2 separate regions of the Homo sapiens genome follow, and region 1 is linked to region 2. The links come from fine-mapping of genetic effects on gene expression. Tissue or cell type: NK cells. Region 2 holds a variant in brackets; the other region holds the start of a gene. All regions are shown on one strand. Distances are from middle to middle.

Region 1 (8,000 bases), 75 kb before region 2:
ACCTAAGCCATGCCTACATAACAAGAGTACAGCCTCAGAACCACAGTATGACCAAGGAACACAGCACCTCAACAGTGAACTTTTTTCAAGGGACCAAAACCTACAGGGAAGCAACACAAAAAGCACAAGCTTGTTTATCTAACACTCTCCAAAGGACAGGGTGTTCTAACCAAACAACCTTAGTACCCTCAGTGTAAGTTAATAAACTGCTAACTGGTTTATCAACCAGGTTCTTGTGGAGTTGATCCAATGGTATGTTGTTCTTTAAGCACCAACTTTCACTATAATTACTTAATTGTTTACTTTCTCCTCTAGACTATAGGCTCTGTGAGAGCAGGGACCATATCTACCCCATTCACTACTCAGAATGCAGCCCTAAGCATAGTGCCTAGTACAAAGTTAGCTGTGAATAAATATTTGGCAAAGAATTCACTGAATCAATAGATGACACACACAAAAAAATCCCCCAGTGACTAACTCTGGTGAAGTGATAAAATCCAAAGGGTGGGACTGGGAGCAGTGGCTCACGCCCGTAATCCCAGCATTTGGGGAGGTTGAGGTGCACGGATCACCTGAGGTCAGGAGTTCGAGACCAGCCTGGCCAACATGGTGAAACCCTGTCTCTACTAAAAATACAAAAATTAGCTGGGCATGGGGGCACGCGCCTGTAATCTCAGTTGCTTGGGTGGCTAAGGTGTGAGAATTGCTGGAACCCAGGAGGTAGACGTCACAGTGAGCTGAGATTGTGCCACTGCACTCAAAAATATAATAATAAAAATAAAAATTCAAGGGGTGGGGGAGGTGTGAGAAGCTCCCAAAGCTGGTCTAGCCCAAGTACTGTGATGTCCATCAAGAATAAGCCACATTAGGAACCAGCTCAAAGAGGCTGTTGGTTTCTCTCTCTTGTCTCTTTGGTACACAGCACATCTGATTCATTCTTTTTTTTCTTAAGACGGAGTCTTGCTCTGTAATCCAGGCTGGAGCACAGTGGCACGATCTCAGCTTGCTGCAACCTCCACCTCCCGGGTTCAAGCGATTCTCCTGCCTCAGCATCCCAAGTAGCTGGGACTACAGGCATGCGCCATCACACCCAGCTAATTTTTTATTTTTAGTAGAGATGGGGTTTCACCATGTTGGCCAGGCTGGTCTCAAACTCCTAACCTCAGGTAATCCGCCTGCCTCAGCCTCCCAAAGTGATGGGATTACAGGCGTGAGCCATCGCGCCCAGCACTGATTCATTCTTTAACCCGAGAGCCATTCACTTTACCTTGTCCTTGTCCATGACAACACTGGCCACAGGTCCAAATGCTAGGAAGTACTCAGAGAGCTGAGCAGAATCCACATCCCTGGGAAAGCCACTGACAAACACACTTCGAAGTCCCTGGGCCTTTCTCGCAGCTCGTAGTTCTACCAGGTGCCGGTGCTTTCTGCCTCCCAAGTGGGCATCAAGGCTGGGTCCTGCAAAGACAAGTGTGAGACAAAAACATGCAAAGCACTCTTCGACGTGTCTGCCTTTGCTCTCTGCATACCTAAATCTTACTGATCCTTCCAAGCCACAGAAACTGTGACCTTTGAATAAACAAAGTCCTGGCTCCTTTCACCTTCCTCTCTTATACATTTGTCTAAATAGTACATTCTTTTTTTTTTAATTTATTTTTTTTAAACAGAGTCTCACTGTCGCCCCCGCTGGAGTTCAGTGGCGCAGTCTCCACTCACTGCAACGTCTGCCTCCCAGGTTCAAGAAATTCTCCTGCCTCAGCCTCGTGAGTAGGTGGGACTACAGGCGTGTGTCACCACACCCGGCTAATTTTTGTATTTTTAGTAGAGACGAGGGTTCCCAGGAGAACTGGCTACACTACAAGTATTTTGTTTATTTTTACTTAAAGAACAGTGTGATAGTAAAGTATTTCTTAAACCACCTATTTGTGCTAGGTAGAGTTGGAAACAAATTAACAGGTAACTTATCCAGGTCATCTACACAAGAACTAAAAAAATTTGGATCATGGAATACTTTGTGGATCATCTTTGGACATGGTATAATATAGTGATGTCAAAGGCAGGATCTGAAATTACATTGCCCAAGTTCAAATCCCAGCTCTGTCAACCTGTGTGAGACCTTGGTCAAGTTATGAAGCCTCACTGTGCATCAACTTCCTCAGATATAAAATGGAAATATCAGTATCTAGCACCTCACACACAGGTATTATTCAGATATATCACTTGGCAGAGAGAGTCTGGTACACGGTAAATGTTGAAAAACTAACCGTTGCTATTATTTTATTGAGTTAGCTGCTTGATGTCACCAAAGTAAATGTGGGGCCAAAGAAGACTCCTAGGTTTCTGGCTTGGCTTACTGGATGAACAGTGATAGTGCCATTCACAGTGAAAAGGAAGAATGGAAGTAAACCCTGTTTAGGGAACACTGTGATTCCAGACTTCAAAAGTAGGGCTGGGCACATTGGCTCACGCCTGTAATCCCAGCACTTTGGGAGGCCAAGATGGGAAGATCGCTTGAGGCCAGGAATTGGAGACCAGCCTAGGCAACATGGTGAAAACCCATCTCTACAAAAAACTAAAAAATTTGCCAAGTAGGCCGGGCGCGGTGGCTCAGGCCTGTAATCCCGGCACTTTGGGAGGCCGAGGCGGGCGGGTCACGAGGTCAGGAGATCGAGACCATCCTGACTAACATGGTGAAACCTCGTCTCTACTAAAAAATACAAAAAATTAGCCGGGCGTGGTGGCGGGTGCCTGTAGTCCCGGCTACACGGGAGGCTGAGGCAGGAGAATGGGGTGAACCCAGGAGGTGGAGCTTGCAGTGAGCCAAGATCGTGCCACTGCACTCCAGCCTGGGTGACAGAGTGAGACTCTGTCTCAAAAAAAAAAAAAAAAGAAAAAAGAAATTAGCCAAGTATGGTGGTGCACACCTGTAGACTCAACTACTTGGGAGGCTAGCCAGGGGTATGGTTTGAGCCCGGGAGGTTGAGGCTGCAGTGAGCCAAGATCACACCACCGCACTGCAGCCTGGGTGACAGAGCAAGACCTTGTCTCAAAAAAAAAAAAAAAGTGGAATTTGAAGTTACAGTGAACCCCTTGTGTGTCATACAAGAACCTTGTCTATTTTTCCAAACCCATCTTCTGTCTCTTCCTCACTGGTACCTTATGGTCTAGTCATTCATGCCACACCTATTTCATCCATCCCCTCCTTTGAGTAGGTCCTCTGTAGGGCTTCTCTGATTTAGTTACTAATTCTCTGTGGTCCCACAGTTCTCCGAACATATCTATAAAGCATTGAAACTTTCTCATTCTCTAGACGGTGAGCTCCTTCATCTCTGAACCCCCCTCCCCCACCCTAAAGATCAGCAGAATACCAGGCACAGAGCATATGTCCAATAGATGATGGTTAAAGAAGTAATAAAACAATTAAACTTGCGTTGTGGAGATTTCATATACTGAGGAGTGTAATGTGGTGGAACTTTCCCGACTCTCCAAATCCCCTCGGACTTGCAGAGAAAAACGGAGGTGAGAGACCCTACCAATCAACTTGACAAGAACGACTGACTACCTATAACCCTAACTTTCGCCAGGATCAAAAGACGAAAGCCCGCAACCACCCCCGGGTCCCTCACTAGCCACCGCTTACGGTTGGCTGTAGTAACGTGGCAGAGGCAGCAGCGGAACCCCCCACGCGGCAGCGATTCGACATCCGAATCCACCGCCGCCATAGCGACTCTCCTGTACCGACAAAAACACAAGCACCTCTGCCACCACCGGAACCCACTTCGCCAAAGCTCAACGCGCTCGGAAGCAACTTCCGCCGATCCGATAGGAAGTGACATAAAGTCGTTCAATTGCGCGGACACACTCCTCCGGAAACCAAGCTCCTTCGACTCTGGGTTCCGTTTCTAGCCGCTGTCCAGTCCCCGCCCGTTTCAGGAAAAGCGGCGCGTTACGATGCTTATCTGCATGCGGTAAGCCGATTGGTGTGCTTTAAGCTGTTCAGACGTTGATTGGCCCAAAGCATCGTGAATATTCATGACAGCAGCCACAAAGGCCGGCGCCGGGTGGCATCTTGCGGCAGCTCCTTCACCCCGCAGTAGACACCCGTGCGTCTGTACCCTCGACCCTTATTTACCCGACGAATAAAGGCGGAGGATCGGCGGCTTCCAATTCTTTGCCCCACGGAGCCCAGGGCTGTCCCTGGACTTCCAACCTTTTCAGGGCTGTTACTCCCTCCCTCCGCCCCCTGTCCTCCCGCAAAACGGGTGTTCTGCGACGGCTTCTAGCCCTGGTTGGGGAGCTCTGCCACCACCGGGCACCTTCCGGACTCCACGAGGTCCTGGAGCCAGGCCCATTCCTTCCGCAGTAGTGGGCTGCGTGGTGTACGCCGGAGGCGCCAGAGCTACTGGCGCACCTCAGAGCAGTGCGACAAGACAAAACCGAGTGCCAGTAACTGAGTTTAGACACTGGAGGGGGCGAATGCTGTCAACCCCCTCCTGGTATAATTGTCAGTTCATCCCAACGCCGCCGAGGTGTAGGCTCAGGACAGGGAGGGACTACGGGGAGCTGGGGATGCCCTAGGGACAGGGACCATAACGAGGTGGAGAGAACTATCAGATGGGCTCAGCAGCTTGTGCTGTGGTTATCAGCCCACAGCTTTGAATGGCGCAAAGAGCAGTGGACCTAAGGCAGACACCAAGGTCTTTGACCTTGAACAAGTCACAACTGTTGAGGCCGTTTCCCATCTCTAAAGGAAGTGCCCAAGGAGCACACAGCAGGCTGAACTTCTTGTTCTCTATCCTAAGGTGTTCCTTCTAATGGGCCCAGCTCAGGCATCTAATCTCAGTGTCCCAAACCTTTAAGGCAGGAAACAGTGCTACAGTGGATCGGGATATCATCGAGACTGGCCTTGAGGATCCTGAAGCAGCAGGCTGTACACATACACCCAGAGGTGCTAGGGTGGTTCAGTGGTAGAATTCTCGTCTGCCAAATACACCACACAGCTAGGTGAGGGGATCCTCCTATAACCCCACCACCACCCCCAAGGGGGTATACATGTTACCCTGGCTGCTAGCAACTTCCAGAATTCCTTAAACAAAAGGGAGAGGGGAGTAAGAGGTGGGAAACAGAGGAAGAAACACCCCCATTCCCCTTTCCTATGGAGGCCACCAGTCATCCAGAAAGCTCATCTCAACTCCTTTGAATGAATCTGGGCCAAGATGGTTCTTGAGCTCCAGCACCACTGGGAGCTGGGGAGCAGTTTGGGTCCCACAAGAAGCCTAGCTGGAGCAAGCCGCCTGGGTCCAGGCTGCCTATCTCATAAAGCTGTTCCCAGGGCAAGAACCATCTGTACCTCCTTTGTTGTCCTTTGTCCTTTATTTTCCCTCTCAAAGACACCCCCAACACACACACAACACACACCCATGGCAAAGAACAGCTGAGCCAGGAGAAGCTGAAGAAAACAGCTTTTTATTTGTTACTATAAGAACCAATTACAGAATCCGAGGTTAAAAAAACGGACAAAAGATCTTTATTTCTGAGAACTGGCGTACAAAAGGCAGAGGGGGAGGGGAGGGAAGGAAAGAGCGAGCGTGGCCTGGGGTTGATGCCAGCTTAGGGGCCTCAAACTCCAATTAGGAAAGTCCGGACACCGGACAGAAAGAGAAACCCCCAATTAGGAAAAAAAAAAAAAAAAAAAAAAAAAAAGACATGGCAGTGCACGCCCCCCTCCCCCAACCAGGTACCACCACCTGTTATCTGTTTACTCTTCCCCTCCCCATCCCCTTTCACAAAGGGAGGCAAAATTTTTAAAAAATTAAAAAACCCTCCCCCCAAAACTGTCCAAGACATCTGTGGGTCCTACCCCCCAAAACAGGCTAGGTTCCCACATGGGCCAAGTTCCTGCAGTCTGTCCTCCATCGGCAAGCATGGAGGCATGAGACAAGTCTCGAGGTGGTAACACCAGAGGGCGCCCAACCCCTCCAGGGACACACACTCACTTGCTCTCTTCCTTAATTCACTCCTCACTCCCTTCGACACGAAAGGGAAGGGAGGTTTGGGTGCCCTGGGCATCCACCCTCTACCTCTCAGCCCACCTCCCTTCCCCACAGGTGCTCAGTCCTCCAGGACAATAGGCTCATTGGTGCTGGCAGGATGTGAGGGTGCAGGTAGAGGGACAGGGGGCCGCACTGCAATCAGCGTTGGCTTCACCTTCAGGGGCAAGTTGGGTCGGCGAGCAGCTCGCCGCATTTCCAGATGGGTCAGAGCCTTCCGTAGGGCCCTGGCCAGAAAGAGCAAGTGGGAAACAGAAAAGGCTTAGAGAACATTAAGACCTCCAGGTGAAGCCCCACACTGCAATTATGCCTTCTGGCCCATTCTTTTCTGGCATCCCCACCCTGCATCCACAACTTTCCTGGAGCTCTTGCTCTGATACTCCTACTCCCCACACTCACCAGCCTGGACTGTCCCTCTCAGCCCCTCCCATGGTAGACGCCTTACCTGGTATCCTTTGTGGCCACAAACACCACAGGATTGGGGGCATCAGCTGGGTTTAGTTTCTGACGCTTGGCTGCTGGCTGTGAGCTTGAACGAATCCCTGAAGCCAGAGGCCTTCCATTGGCAGAGAAAGGAACCCCTGCCCCTGCCATCTGGAAAAGGGGTAGGATGGCACAATGAGGGAAGGGACCCTCTCAGACTCCTATGAGAGACAAAAGCCCACCCAACTCAATCTGGCCCACCCCTTTCTGTCAACTCACAGTCTCATAGGCCCGTTTCACCATAATGCCCCCCAGTCCCCGGTTCTGGGACAGCTGGTTTCTGTTGATCGGTGTCTTGGTACCCCGAGGTGTTTTTGGTTTCAGGGGTGCCTGGGCCACTGGAAAAAAACAGAAAACTTTCGCACCTTTTCTTCCCACGCAGTTCCCCTTTGTTACTTCCATCTCTCTTCCCTGGACCAGCAGTTTACCTGGGCATCCCCAAAAGTAGCAATGGGGGAATGTTCTGGCAAGCTATCACTAGTATTTCAAATATCAGTATGACCTTATCAAATCAGTACAGTAATACTGAATAGTTTACAAAAAAAATTATTAAACAACAAAAGTACAGTTTGTTAGACTAAATCTCTGAGGACACTATGAGGAAGAAAAAAAGCAAGGGGAGAGATGTCAGACAGGGAAAGGACTGGGAGCCTGATGCCAACCTCACTGGTCCCCATCCCATACCCAGATCTTTGACGATAGTTGCCAGGGGCAGCCGCACCAGAGGGTGAATCTTCAATGGAGTCTTGGCGGCCTTAGGAAGTCGAATGGAGCCTGGAGAACAAAGAAGAAAGCTTCTGAAGGGCTTCACCATTCAGGTCTCCTCTAAGGCCAGAAGCCAACTCTAATCTTAAAAAAATTATCTGTGGCCTACTATCCCTCCTGTTATTAGACATCCAGAGAAACAACGGTCTCTGGGCAGAGCAATCCGAAACCCACCACCAGTCCCACCACTCCCTGCCCTTACACTCTGCTTTGATGGCATTGGCATTGATAGGAGCATAAGGCCGTCGGGCGGCCCTCCTTGGCTGTAATAGGTCCCTGCACATGCGTCTGGCAAGACGGGTCAGCTTTGTGGTCTGAAGCAGGAAAGTTTGTCTGTTCTTAGCCAGTAGCTTGGCCCTGTTGGCGCTGGTTGTGTAAGGAGAGAGACTTTGAGCTTCAGGTCTGGATAAATGACCCCTTGAGTGTGGCTCCTAGAAGAAGAGCATAGGAAAGAGAGAGAGCAGAAATCAGCACTGAGGCTCCCTTCTTTCTTCCATTCCCTGCAGGGGACAATTTATTCCTGTCTAATCTCTTTACTGACCTCTTGGCCTATGTGTCTCCCCAACCAGCATCAAGCACCCCGTCCATCAAACCATCACCATATAAAGAGTTGAATATTCTGGCCTTCACCTAAGCTCACCATCAATATGCTTACTGCTCTCCCCTGCTTTTCTTCCCACTGATCCTTACCGTGGTGCCCCG
Region 2 (8,000 bases):
TCCTCACTGTCTTGTTTCCATACTCCCCAATCTTTTCATGACCCATCCCCATTCCTACATTTAATCACACACATCTCAGAGTGCTAGGGCTTTATTACAAATGGAGTTGACTGCTAGAGAGGCCCTTCTCCAATCTTTCTTCTGTACCTTCTTCCCTCCCAAAGACATCCCTCTAGGGGAGGTCAGTAGGCCATTAGGTAGGAGGAAATCTGGAGAGTGAAAAGGGGCCTTGCTTTTGTCAAAGTCCTCTGAAACAACCACTGAGTCTGAAGGCTGGCTCCAGTTGAGAATCTTCTAGTGGAAGAGGTTTAGCTCTCATCTTCAAGGTCCTTCATTTCTACATCCTGGGGGGCTTTTGTCTTCTTTTGCCTTTTGAGCTGTGGTTCACTAGTCCTGGCTGGCTTTGAAGGGGCTTCCACTGAGTAAAGGGAAGAAGGAAGTATTATCCCAAATAAATCCAGGATTCCCCTCACCCACCTCTGTCCCAGCCTCACCTTCCATGGCTGTCTTCTCTTTCTGGGCAAGCCGGATCTGCTGGAGGAGTTTTCTGCGCTTCTTCCCTGACAGTGTAATGTTGGCACGTGCACTGGACCTGATGGGTAAGTGGAAATAAAGAGAGCTAGGTTAACCTGAACCAACTGAGGTCACACAAATAGTTCTGGCTATAGAAAAAGTATTAAATAGGCTGGGCGCAGTGGCTCACGCCTGTAATCCCAGCACTTTGGGAGGCCGAGGCGGCTGGATCACGAGGTCAGGAGATCGAGACCACGGTGAAACCCTGTCTCTACTAAAAATACAAAACATTAGCTGGGCGCAGTGGCGGGCGCCTGTAGTCCCAGCTACTCGGGAGGCTGCGGCAGGAGAATGGCGTGAACCCAGAAGGCGGAGCTTGCAGTGAGCCGAGATCGCGCCACTGCACTCCAGCCTGGGCGACAAAGCGAGACTCCGTCTCAAAAAAAAAAAAAAAAGGAAAAGTATTAAATAAATATAATATAAATAGTAATAGAAACCCTAAATATTTACATTGAAGAAGCTAATGAAAGGACATAGATCGGGGGCGGTGGCTTATGCCTGTAATCCCAACACTTTGGGAGGCTGAGGTGGGCGGATCACCTGAGGTCAGGAGTTCAAGACCAGCCTGGCCAACATGGTGAAACCCCGTCTCTACTAAAAATACAAAAATTAGCCGGGTGCAGTGGGGAGCACCTGTAATCCCAGCTACTCGGGAGGCTGAGGCAAGAGAATAGCTTAAACCCAGGAGGCAGGGGTTGCAGTGAGCCGAGATCATGCCACTTCACTCCAGCCTGGGCAACAGAGGGAGACTCTGTCTCAAAAAAGAGGAAAAAAAAAAAAAAAAAAAAAAAGGACACAGAAAGTAATTAATGGGATGGGAACTCTTCCTCAAGACACAGGAGGCCTTGAAACTTACAAGTGAAATCCTATGAGTGCCTTTGGGAAAATTCTTCGAGTTTTATGCGCCTATGTGTGCACTTTTCTGTATGTAAAAATAAGTTTACTTATAAAAATCTGTGTGAATGTATAACATTACTTGGAGAATGGAGAGCCAACAGATTTCCTGATATTCTTTTTTTTTTTTTTTTTTTTTTGAGACGGAGTCTCACTCTGTGGCCCAGGCTGGAGTGCAGTGGCGTGATCTCGGCTCACTGCAACCTCCGCCTCCCAGGTTCAAGCAATTCTCCTGCCTCAGCCTCCCGTGTAGCTGGGACTACAGGTGCCGGCCACAACGCCTGGCTAATTTTTGTATTTTTAGCAAAAACGGGGTTTCACCATGTTGGTCAGGCTGGTCTCGAACTCCCGACCTCAGGTGATCCGCCCACCTCAGCCCCCCAAAGTGCTGGGATTACAGGTATGAGCCACCATCCCCGGCTTTCCTGAGATTCTTAACAGAATCCAAAACCCAAAGAAAGGTTGTCTGCTACAGGTATTGTGAGAGGCTATCAGAGCTTAGGAACTAACAGCCGACAGACATTCCCCGCATAAGCGTCAGTGCACAAGGTGAGCTGAGAGGTGAAGCTGCTCCGGAGCTCTGCAGGGAGGAAGGAAGACTCGGTGGGGACGACCAACAGGAAGAGGGTCTAGTACTTACGCCCGCTTCTTGAGGTGGTGCCGCGTGATCAGCCCTTGGTCTATCACAGCCCCGACCACCCGGTGCCTCAGACGCCGCTCCCGATTCAACACCCGCCGGCGTTTGAACAGCTTCTTCTTCAGCTCCTGCCGGGGAGAAAGATGCGAATCAGATGGAGTGGGCTCGCCGCGACCCGGGGCCCCTCCACCAGGCAGCCCCGGCCCCTCACTGATCCCATCTCGTGCGAGATAAAAGGGCTCAGGAACGCTTGAGGAAACAAAGTCGCGGCCCCCACACAGTCACCGTTCGGGGCCGGTTGATCTTTCCCCCCGGAGCTCCCATAGTCGCGATTCCACTCCAGTTCACGGTCCGTACTTCCGCTCAGCGCCGGATCCGCGGGGCTCCGCCCCGGCCTTCCGCGGGCCAATCGCAACTCGGGGGCGGGTCCTCGGGCTATATAAAGGAGCTCCGCGGTGCGGGAGGCCTTTCGGAGGGTGGTGAGCTAGTAAGTGTGGTTTTAGCTGTAGTAGCCAGATTGGGCGGCCGGGAGTGGTGGGGGTGCCGGGTGGAAGGCTCTGGGCGGGGTCTCAGGACCCTCCTTTTCTTGGCGGGGATCGGGCTTGTGGTGCCGCTCCCCGTAATGTACGGAGGAAGAGGGAAAGGGCTCTGGCCCCCTCGGCGTCATGTCTTCGGTGCTGGCGGCTTCCCATCCGCTGGTTCTATCCTCAAACGCCGGGACACCGGGAATCTCGGAGAAGGACAACCGAGATCCAGCTGGCTCCTCCATCGGGGTGCTCACACTTTCTCATTTGATTTCAGGTCTGCGGACGCTGTATACCCTCCTCCACTTCCCGCTGCAGCCAATAAAGGCCGTTCCTACCATAGTCTGTGTCCGCGTTCTTTTTTCCGGGACTGCAGAGTTCGGGGAAGCTGTACGCCGCCTTTCGCTACGCGGAATTTGCAGATCTTCCCCTGGACCTCAGGCCTCTCCGGCTGGAGTAGGGTGGACGCTTCACATAAGCTTCTCTGGTCGAACTTACCCGAATCTCCAGATGGCCGCGCTGCGTCGAATGCTCCACTTGCCGAGCCTGATGATGGGGACGTGCCGCCCCTTTGCGGGTAGGGAGGTGGGGGCAGAGTGGAGAGGGCAAGGTGGGGGCAGAGTGGGGAGGGTAAGGTGGGTTCCTCGTGAGTCAGGAGTGTAGTCCCTGAAATTGTGATTCTCAAACCCTACGGTGGGCCGTGCGTGGTGGCTCACGGCTGTAATGCTAACACTTTGCCAGGCCGAGGCGGGCAGATCGCTTGGCCCAGGAGTTCGAGACCAACCTAGGGCAACATAGCGAGACCCTGTCTACAAAAAAAATTAACCGGGCACGATGGCGCCTATAGTCCTAGCTACTCAGGAGGCTGAGGTGGAGGCTTCAGTGAGCCATCATTGTGCTACTGTACTCAACCCTGGGTCACAGAGTGAGACCCTGTCTCAAAAAAAAAAAAGACGCCAGTGTGTATATACGACGTTTTTGCAGTGGCGACATAGACCAAGTGACACCCTCCAACCGTGCCCACAGGCTCACTGGCTGATAGTTGCCTGGCGGACCGCTGTCTCTGGGATCGGCTGCATGCCCAGCCTCGTTTGGGCACTGTCCCCACCTTCGACTGGTTCTTTGGATACGACGAAGTCCAGGGGCTCCTACTGCCATTGCTGCAGGAGGCACAGGCTGCCAGTCCTCTGCGAGTGCTGGATGTGGGCTGTGGGACTTCCAGCCTATGTACAGGCCTCTACACCAAATCTCCACACCCAGTGGATGTGCTGGGGGTGGACTTTTCTCCTGTGGCTGTGGCCCACATGAATAGCCTCCTGGAGGGTGGCCCAGGCCAAACACCTCTATGCCCTGGACACCCTGCCTCAAGCCTCCACTTCATGCACGCCGATGCTCAGAACCTGGGGGCTGTGGCTTCTTCAGGCTCTTTCCAACTACTGCTGGACAAAGGCACATGGGATGCTGTTGCCCGGGGAGGTCTGCCTAGGGCTTACCAGCTTCTATCAGAATGCTTGAGGGTTCTAAACCCTCAGGGGACCCTGATTCAGTTCTCAGATGAGGACCCTGATGTGCGACTGCCCTGCCTGGAACAAGGGTCCTATGGCTGGACTGTGACTGTGCAGGAGCTAGGCCCGTTCAGGGGCATCACCTACTTTGCTTACTTGATTCAAGGCTCTCATTAAA[G/C]ACATTTTAGTAGTCCTGACCCTAGTATTTCTGTGGGCAAGGAGAGGGCTGAAGAACTGTCTTTGCAAGCTATCTGGCTGCAAAGTGAGAATTTGAGTCCTGGCTTCCACATTTACTAGCTGGGTGCCATATTGCTGAATGTTTCTGTTCCCCAGTTTACTCATCTGCAGAGTGAGAATAACTTGGAGTTACGGAGATTACATACAATGATGTGCGCAATATTTAGCACAAAATGAATGCTGAAAAGAGAAGGTACAATTGGGTCATTCCCCAGTTTCAACTAACTGGAGCTCCTAAAAGCAGCAGACAGGAACTGAATCAAAACCCCTGCGCTGACTGACTTGTATAATCTAGTGGCCTAACCTGTAAGCCTCATTTTTGTCACCTGTAAAAGGAGATTGTAAGAGGATGGGTATAAGGAGCTTCATAAACCTGGATGAGATATTTGAGGGGGAGGGAACAATACTTACCCTCAAAGCTATTAGGAGGCAGGAGATGGGAATATTCCACAAAGCCACTTCTACAAACACGGGAGCCTGTTGAGTCCCAGAAGGGACAGTGGTTGGTGGCTTCCAGACATGCTGTGTCCTCAAGAATCCAACAAGCATCTTCTTCATCCTGGTCCTGCCCCCAGCTGAGTCCAGCGTTAAATGTTCTTAAAGGACTTCTAGGGTCCTGTGGGCTCCAAGCCCAGCCTGGGATGGAGGAAGAGAGGGGACAAAAATATTACTGATATATTATCAAATTACAAAACTAGGCCAGGCATGCTGGCTCATACCTATAATCACAGCACTTTGGGAGGCCAAGGTGGGCAGATTGCTTGAGCCCTGGCAATAAAGTGACACCCCTAACTCTACAAAAACAAATGAGCCCGGGATAGTGGCACAGGCATGTAGTTCCAACTACTCAGGAGGCTGAGCTGGGAGGACTGCTTGAACCCTGGGAGGTCAAAGCTGCAATGGGCCATGATAAGCTGCTGCACTTGAGCTAAAAATTAATTTCTGTGGTATTTTTTGCTTATAAAAAAATAGAGCAATTATATCACTAAGAGCCTAACCTCGCAGCCTCAATTTTCTCATTTATAAAGGGGAAGTACCTTCATTGGGTTGTTCTGAAAATCATGAAGTAAAAGTGTTTAGCATAGTACCTGGTACATAGTAAATGCTCAAAAGAATGTAGCTTCTTGGGAGGCTGAGGCGGGCAGATTGCCTGAGCTCAGGAGTTTGAGACCAGCCTGGGCAATATGGTGAAACCCCATCTCTACTAAAATACAAAAAAAATTAGTCGGGCGTGGTGGCCTGAACCTGTAGCCCCAGCTACTCAGGAGGCTGAGGCAGGAGACTTGCTTGGACCTGGGAGGCAGAGGTTGCAGTAAGCCGAGATCCTGCCACTGCACTCCGCCTGGGCAACAGAGGGTGACTCTGTCTCAAAAAAAAAAAAAAAAAAAAAAGTAGCTTCTGTAACAGTACACAGACGGGGCCGGGCGCGGTGGCTCACGCCTGTAATCCCAGCACTTTGAGAGGCCCAGGCAGGCGGATCACAAGGTAAGGAGATCCTGGCGAACAAAGTGAAACCCTGTCTCTACTAAAAATACAAAAAAATTAGCTGGGCGTGGTGGCGGGTGCCTGTAGTCCCAGCTACTCGGGAGGCTGAGGCAGGAGAATGGCACGAACCCAGGAGGCAGGGCTTGCAGTGAGCAGAGGTCATTGCCACTGCACTCCAGCCTGGGGGACAGAGCAAGACTCTGTCTCAAAAAAAAAAACCAAAACCAAAACAAACAAACAAAAAAACAGTACACAGAGATGAAAAAAGTCTAGAAGAGAAGGTATCGAATATGTAAACTATTTTTAGGTAGTTGGTCTTGGGGTAATTTTTTTTGTTTTTTGTTTTTTTTGAGGCAGAATCTGGCTCTTGCCCAGGCTGGAGTGCAGTGGTGGGATCTCAGCTTACTGCAAACTCCACATCCCGGGTTCACGCCATTCTCCTGCCTCCCGAGTAGCTGGGACTACAGGCGCCCGCCACCACGCCCGGCTAATTTTTTGTATTTTTAGTAGAGACGGGGTTTCACCATGTTAGCCAGGATGGTCTCGATCTCCTGACCTTGTGATCTGCCCGCCTCAGCCTCCCAAAGTGCTGGGATTACAGGCGTGAGCCACCGCGGCCAGCCTTAATCTGTACTTTCAAAATGTTTACATTGCTGCAGGAAAAGATAAAATTACCCCAAGACTGGCCGGCTTGGGAGGCTGAGGCAGGAGAATGGCGTGAACCCAGGAGGCGGAGCTTGCAGTGAGCTGAGATCGCGCCACTGCACTCCAGTCTGGGTGACAGAGCGAGACTCAGTCTCAAAAAAAAAAAAAAGAAGAAAAAGAAAGTACAGATTAAAGGATGGCACCCATTCTGATACCAAAACTGCTCTCTACAATTCATCAACTTTGCCAGCTGCCTTTTCTCTCCCACATCTTCACATTTATTGAGCACCTGCTGTGTGCCTGGCACTGCTGAATGCAGGGGCCGTAACTGACTTCCATCTTGGCTCTGCCCAGAACATTCAGCTCACAGTGGCCCCCTGAATGAGCCACCTCCCTCACCTGGCTCTTCACTTTGGTCTTGGAAGAAGGCCTCAGCATCCTCTTCCTCACCATCAGTGAGCAGCAGCAGCTCCTCATGGGGCAAATGGAGATCCCCACTCTCTTCATTCACCTCACTGGATTCCACCACAATAGACGGCAGATGGGACTTTTGAGAGAAATCCTGAATAGGGACAGCAGGGAGGTTGGGCCAAACTGGAGGGTAAGCCAGCTGCCAGACACAGGCTGAGGAAGTACTAACCTGAATGTGCTGGTGACCTTCAACCTTGCCAATTTTTCCTCTGTCCCAGAGAGGGTTGGGCAGCCTGGGACTTTCTGGATGCTGGGAGGAGCCTGGGCTATTTCTAGTCCAAAGCCCATCCTCCTTGCTTCTCCCTGGCACAAGGGCCATGGTGGTGATTCTTAGAGTGCAAGATGATTGAACTCAGAGGAGAGTACTGCTGCCCAGTGCACCCCACAAACTGTTCCTTTAATCTTCTTTGGAGCCTGGCCCCTTAAGCACCGACTGTGCTAAGCGATTATACGCTTTCAGGGGAGGGGAAAATGCCCAAGAGGTGAGATAGGATCTTTATTTCTACTTACTCCCTGGAGACACTGGGATGGCAACAAGGGTAGGAGACAAGGGCACCTGGATTAAAGCCCTGTGGGCCAAGAGTTGTGATAACCAACTTGGAATTTCCTGACTCCTATGCTTACTGATTTTTCCCAACCTGGTATGTTTGTATGTTATTTAATGAATATTTATATGGTGTTTACTCTTTGGCAGGAGCTGTTTTAATTGCTTTACATATAACTAATTTAATTATCCTAAAACTGTGAGACAAGTACTGTTGTTATAAGCTTCATTTTCTGATGCAGAAACCGGGGCACAAGAACTTGCCTATAATCAGTCACACAGCTAAGAGGTGTTTTCTTCTGTAAAGCAGAATTCAGTATGTTACACGAATCCAGCCTTTTAGTGGTTGAAAACAAAGCAAAACAGCCGGGCGCGGTGGCTCACACCTGTAATCCCAGCACTTTGGGAGGCCGAGGTGGGCGGATTGGGCGGATCACGAGGTCAGGAGTTCGAGACCAGCCTGACCTACATAGTGAAACTCTTTC

Direction of the effects. Positions count from the first base shown, and alleles are read on the strand shown. Sizes are in standard deviations (SD) of each study's normalised expression.
For the expression in NK cells of the gene that starts at base 3,760 in region 1, G is the low allele of the variant in region 2 and C is the other (large effect, 0.76 SD a copy in Gilchrist 2021).

Evidence for each region. PIP is the estimated chance that this variant, and not a neighbour inherited with it, causes the effect.
Region 1: it holds the start of TUT1, and the variant in region 2 is fine-mapped to the expression of TUT1 in NK cells (Gilchrist 2021, PIP 0.95).

What each region holds. Positions count from the first base shown.
Region 1 is chr11:62,587,764-62,595,763 of GRCh38, forward strand. TUT1 (terminal uridylyl transferase 1, U6 snRNA-specific) reads right to left here and starts at 3,760. Exons shown (of 9, transcript NM_022830.3): 1 at 3,641-3,760; 2 at 1,268-1,458. The coding sequence starts at 3,722. It overlaps MTA2 (metastasis associated 1 family member 2), which reads right to left. Exons shown (of 18, transcript NM_004739.4): 13 at 7,989-8,000; 14 at 7,501-7,729; 15 at 7,218-7,307; 16 at 6,753-6,871; 17 at 6,496-6,644; 18 at 5,451-6,277. The coding sequence ends at 6,112. RefSeq lists enhancers at 3,570-4,265, 3,682-3,911.
Region 2 is chr11:62,662,742-62,670,741 of GRCh38, forward strand. LBHD1 (LBH domain containing 1) reads right to left here. Exons shown (of 7, transcript NM_024099.5): 2 at 7,141-7,300; 3 at 6,900-7,062; 4 at 4,782-5,006; 5 at 2,108-2,232; 6 at 495-592; 7 at 76-418. The coding sequence starts at 7,290. The coding sequence ends at 388. It overlaps C11orf98 (chromosome 11 open reading frame 98), which reads right to left and starts at 2,469. Exons shown (of 4, transcript NM_001286086.2): 1 at 2,390-2,469; 2 at 2,108-2,232; 3 at 495-592; 4 at 76-418. The coding sequence starts at 2,428. The coding sequence ends at 309. CSKMT (citrate synthase lysine methyltransferase) reads left to right here and starts at 2,571. Exons shown (of 3, transcript NM_001043229.2): 1 at 2,571-2,591; 2 at 2,906-3,205; 3 at 3,655-5,367. The coding sequence starts at 3,139. The coding sequence ends at 4,310. It overlaps SNORA57 (small nucleolar RNA, H/ACA box 57), which reads left to right and starts at 2,681; the gene lies at 2,681-2,829. RefSeq lists enhancers at 2,689-2,918, 3,589-3,698, 3,749-3,798, 3,819-3,918, 7,616-8,000. The variant G/C (reference allele first, on the strand shown) is at 4,312.